Linked DNA regions of Homo sapiens: region 2 is linked to region 1. Evidence: fine-mapped expression QTL. A gene starts in region 1. The other region holds a variant in brackets. All regions are shown on one strand. Distances are between the middles of the regions.

The links. PIP is the estimated chance that this variant, and not a neighbour inherited with it, causes the effect.
Region 2: its variant is the best candidate, but not a certain one, in a credible set for the expression of ZNF34 in blood mononuclear cells (TOPMed, PIP 0.85).

The regions. Positions count from the first base shown.
Region 1 is chr8:144,786,303-144,789,100 of GRCh38, forward strand. ZNF34 (zinc finger protein 34) reads right to left here and starts at 1,015. Exons shown (of 6, transcript NM_001286769.2): 1 at 977-1,015. RefSeq lists a silencer at 744-1,103 and enhancers at 1,254-1,483, 1,524-1,583.
Region 2 is chr8:144,740,053-144,742,850 of GRCh38, forward strand. The region is part of intron 4 of ZNF251 (zinc finger protein 251); the gene reads right to left. The region is part of intron 1 of LOC107986986 (a long non-coding RNA gene); the gene reads left to right. Among named protein-coding and RNA genes, the nearest start is that of ZNF251, 14 kb to the right of the region's middle. The variant C/T (reference allele first, on the strand shown) is at 1,077.

The sequences.
Region 1 (2,798 bases):
TTTTAAGAGACAAAAACAGTATTAGGTTTGTAGAGATATAAGAAAACGAGGCCGGGCGCAGTGGCTCACGCCTGTATTCCCAGCACTCTGGGAGGCTGGGGCGGGCAGATCACTTGAGGTCAGGAGTTCGAGACCAGCCTGGCCAACATGGTTAAACCCCATCTCTACTAAAAATACAAAAATTAGCTGGGCATGGTGGCGGGCGCCTGTAATCCCAGGTATTCGGGAGGCTGAGACAGGAGAATCCCTTGAACTCGGGAGGCGGAAGGTGCATTGAGCCGAGATCGCGCCATCGTACTCCAGCCTGGGCGACAGAGCGAGACTCCGTCTCAGAAAAAGAGAGAGAGAAAGGAAAGAAGGAAGAGAAGAGAAAAGAAAAGAAAGAAAAAATAAAGAAGAGAAACAAAAATCTGGCTGCCTGGCTGCGGGGAGAAAAGCCTTGGAGCGCCAGAAGCGAGGAGGGTGGGGCGGAGGGAAGGCACAAGCAGAGGGAGGAGCACTGGCGGAGCGCGGACGCTAAAGGCAGGAGGGGCGGCATTCGCAGAGGGCTGGGAGGACCGCGAGACGCACGAGCCCCGCCCCTGAAAAGCTGACAGGAGAGGAGCGTGGGAGGGAGCCGGGATGGGAAGCCTCGGGCCGCTGGGACCAAGGGGTCTGGAGCGCATCGGGACGCAGAAGCCGCTCTGTGCGGCAGGAGTCCAGGGGACCCCGCGTGGGGCAAGGGAGTTGTCAGGGGCTCGAGAGCGGAAGGAGCCCCGTGAGGAGCGACCCCAGGGCTGGCAGAGAGCGGCGAGGCGCAGTCCGTACTCGGGGCCTTGTCCGGGGGGTCCCTCGAACAGGAAGTGCCGCTGATGGCGGGACGGACCCACGCCTGCAGCACCGCGAGAGGACCGGGCACAGGGGCAACGCGCAGGGGAGGGTCTGCGCCGGGAGGGTCTGCGCCCCGCGCGCCCGCCCCCGCCGGGCTCACACTCACCTCAGCGCCGCCGAGCAGCACGGCAGCCCAACCTCGCCCGTTCGGCCCTCCCTCCCCGCCAATCGGAACCGATCCGGAAGTGACGTCAGCCGACTGTCTGGGTCCGAGGCGCCGTCCGGGCCGCTCTGGGAAGCTAGGACGCCGCGTGTCGGCTGCCCACCTCCCTGGCTTGCAGTAAGGCTCCGGGGACCCGCGAATGGCAAAGCCGTAAAGCGGGAATGCTGCCACCGGGTGGCAGTCCGAAGCCACGGCCCAGAGGCCTCAGAACTGGGGCGATGGTCAGAGGCGAAAACATATTAGTCTTTCCCTTTTTCTGAGAAATTCTCTCCCTAATGATGCACGAAAGGCGCCGCAAACAAGAACTAGGCCCTTCGATTTACAGAGAAACGGGAACCGCACCCTTCCTTAGGGCCAAGAAAGGATGCTTACTGGCCAAAGAAGCCTGTCTTGGGTTTAACCTATTGCTCCTCATCCTTAACTCCTGTAAATGGGGCCCAGTGTCCACTCTGGAGAAAGGGTTTTTCGGGTGCCTGAGCTGCTTCTGGAACAAACTTTCCCTCATGGCCGGTCCATCGGCCAAGCCCTGCCGTCCACTTTGCCCAGAAGGGAGCAGAAAAACAGTGACCGCTTATGGCCAAGCTAAGCATCTAGTGCTTTCCCAAAACCCTCTTTCCAGATGCCCCTCCATCCTTCAGGAGGAAACACCGCCCTCCTGGATTCTTTCTCGACAAGTCAGCTGGGACCCTGGGACCGGCCCTGCGAATGACGAGATCAAAACCAGGTCCCGTAGTTACTGGCGGGGAGGCGGGGCTGGAGTGGGAGGACCACATGAGGCCAGGGGCTTGAGACCAGCCTGGCAATAGCGAGAGCCTGTCTAAAATAAACAGGCCCTGCTGGGTCACTGCCTAGGTGTGGTGGGCGCCCAAAGACAGGTGGGGCCATACCAGCAGGATCAGGAAAGCAAGATCACGAAATGGGGGGTAAGGTTCTCTAGAGACAGCGTGGACCATGACAGCCAGGAACCACCGCGCAGCCAGTTAGGACTTGTCATCCCGGAGTGACCACGGAAGCCTAAGGTGACTATTCTCACCTGCCAGGCACCCTCCAACCAAGTCTATAGGGAGAGACCGTGCCTCATCCTGCCTGCTGCAGTTCCACAGGAGTGTTGTTAGGGGCAGTGATCTGCAGCTGCTGCATTCGCTGGTGGAACTTCCTCGTGTGAAAGTGCTGATAGGATGCTGTCCTGGGATCTCCTCATTGGATCATGGTTAAGGGACAAGATGCCATGGGCTATGGCCAAACAGGAAGCCCCTCCACTCTGCCTTGTGACGGAAACCAGCTTACTTGCCCTCCCATTGCAGGGGGGGTTCCCCAACACTTCCAACCTGATTCCACTCAATCATCACTGTCAGCCTCATCACTACCAAAGCTAGAGAGAACCAAAGTATCAGCCCCTGCCAGCAGGGAAAGGCCATGTGCTTTAAGGTAATCAATGCAGCTTTGGGGGCTGTTCCTGGTTAGTTTCTCTGCCCCAGGGAAGAGGGGGCTACATGCCCTGCGAAGCTGTGGAGTTACAGGACTCAAGGAGCAGACCAACCTACTGCTGGTGCCAGCTCCAGTCCAGTGTAGGGCTCTGGGTGGGTGGGTGAAGGGACTTGGGTGGTCTGGGATTCCCCATACACACACTGCATGCATTCATCCCTTTGTTCAGCAATCCCAGCAGTGACCTGGGACCCCACACTCAATCACCACCCTCAACCTCACCTGTCACTATCAGGCTAGAAAATGAGGAAAGGCATGAGGCCCCACCCACCACCCACAG
Region 2 (2,798 bases), 46 kb before region 1:
AGGCGGGCAGATCACCTGAGGTCCGGAGTTCGAGACCAGCCTGACCAACATGGAGAAACCCCGTCTCTACTAAAAATACAAAATTAGCCAGGTGTGGTGGTGCATGCCTGTAATCCCATCTACTCCGGAGGCTGAGGCAGGAGAATGGCTTGAACCCGGGAGGTGGAGGTTGCTGTGAGCCGAGATCGCGCCATTGCACTCTAGCCTGGGCAACAAGAGTGAAACTCCGTCTCAAAAATAATAACAACAGAAAAATACAAACAAGCAAAATGAAGTTTTGTTGTGTTTTAACTTCATTTTCAGGCTGGGCGCAGTGGCTCATGCCCGTAATCCCAGCACTTTGGGAGGCCGAGGTGGGTGGATCACCTGAGGTCAGGAGTTCGAGACCACCCTGGCCAACATGGTGAAACCCTGTCTCTACTAAAAATACAAAATTAGCAGGGTATGGTGGCAAGCACCTGTAATCCCAGCTACTTGGGAGGCTGAGGCAGGAGAATCACTTGAACCTGGGAGGCAGAAGTTGCACTGAGCCAAGATGGCACCACTGCACTCCAGCCTGGGCAACAAAACAAGACTAAATCTCAAAAAAAAATAAAAATAGGCCACCATGGTGGCTCACGCCTGTAATCCCAGCACTTTGGGAGGCTGAGGCGGGCAGATTGCCTAAGCTCAGGAATTCGAGACCAGCCTGACCAACATGGTGAAACCCCATCTCTACTAAAAATACAAAATTAGCTGGGCGTGGTGGCAGGTGCCTGTAATCCCAGCTACTCGGGAGGCTGAGGCAGGAGAATCACTTGAACCTGGGAGGCGCAGGTTGTGATGAGCTGAGATGGCGCCATCGCACTCCGGCCTGGGCAAGAAGAGCGAAACTCCGTCTCAAAAAACAAAAAAAAAGAAACAAAAAAAAACCCCCAAAAATAAATAAATAAAAATAATGAAATAAAACTGCATTTTCAAGGACAACAGGAGGCCCTGGAGGCTGAGTTCCTCGAAGTGCTGCCGAAGGCAATGCCAGAAGGGAACAGTCCCAGTAGCCGGAAGGAGCCACAGAAAAGCAGCATCGCAAACGCAGA[C/T]GGGCCCGAGGTGGATCTCAAAAGTGTCCAAAAGGAGCTGGCCCAACCCAGGAAAGAACATCTGTGAGTGGGGCCAATACTGACGATGGCAGAGCCCTGGGACAGGCCAACACACAAGCCTCAGAAAGCTCAGTGCCCAGGGCACAGTGGTGACAGCTCGTGGATATGCCAGCAAAATCTAACTTGTGAAGGTACATGCTGGTGACCAGCTGCACAGATGTACACACACACTCATACACACACTCACACACACTCACATGCGTAAACATGTACATACACACGATGCAGATACACATACACCCATACATACAGAATCCACAGTCTCCACTCCAAAATTAACAAACACATAAAGAACCAAGAAAATAGAGCACGTTTTTGTGAGAAAAGGAAATCAACCATCTGACCCTGAAATGAGTCAGATGTTGAAACTAACAGACAAGGATTTAAAAACAGGAATTATAATTATCCTCAGTGAAGTAAAACAAAACAGGAAAATCTCAGGGAGTGAAAACTCTCAGCAGAGACACAGAAATAATAAAAAGGAATAAAACAGTCATTCTGGAACTGAAGAACACAATCTCTGAAATAAAGCATTACTTGACAGACTAACAGCTGAATGGGCACAATAAAGGAAAGAGTAAGTCAACTTGAATCGAGATGAACAGAAATTATCTGAAGAATACAGATAAAAATATTTTAAAAATAATAAACAGCCTTACAAATCTGTTAGATAATTCAAATGGTCACTTATAATTGGTATCTCAGGAGACCAGAGAGAGAATGGTACAGAAAGAAATGTGAAGAAATAATGGTCAAAAATTTCCCAAATTTGATGAAAGACAGAAATCTACAGGATCAAGATGCTATATGAACACCTAGCAGAGTAAAAACCAAGAGGCCGGTGCTGCAGTACATCAGAGTCCACCTGCTGGGAACCGAAACGACAGGCAGCTCACCTCAAAAGCAGGAGAGTGACCCACGACACACCACGAGCCAGTGATCCCATGAATGGCTGACTCCTCATCGAAAGTCAAGGAGGCCAGAAAAGAGTAAAATAGCAGCTTTAAAGTGCTGAATGGGAAAAGGAAAAAAAAAAGCAAAATAAAGGTACTTTCATACACGAGAAAACTAAGAACTGGGGCAGCAGACTCGCACCACGAGAAATGCAAAGGTCTTTGGGCTGAAGGGAAATGGTGCCAGCTAGAAACTCAGATCATCAGAAAGGGATGAAGAGCACTAGAGATGGAAAATCTGGGGAAACATGAGATTTTTTTGAAAATACTTTATTTTTAGAGCATTTCACAGCAATATTAAGCAGAAAACACAGTTCCTGCATACCCCACCCCCCACACACCTCCCCCACTACTTACCTCCCGCAACAGTGATAACAGCGTCACAATGAATGAACCCACACTGACACATCATGACCATCTAAAATCTCAGTTTAGGGCTCACTCGTGGTGCCGCGTGATCTATGGGTTTTGCATCCACCACTGCAGTACTGTACAGACTAGTGTCACCGCCCTAAAAATCCTCTGGCTTCACCCTGCTTCTCTACTCCTTGGCACTGCTGATCTTTTTGCTGTCTCTATAGTGTTGCCTCATCCAGAATGTCACATAGTTGGAATCATACAGTATAGGTGTCCGTTGGTAAACAAAGGGGATTGGGTCCGAGACCCCCACGTATACCCAAATCCATGCATACTCAAGTTCCACAGCTGG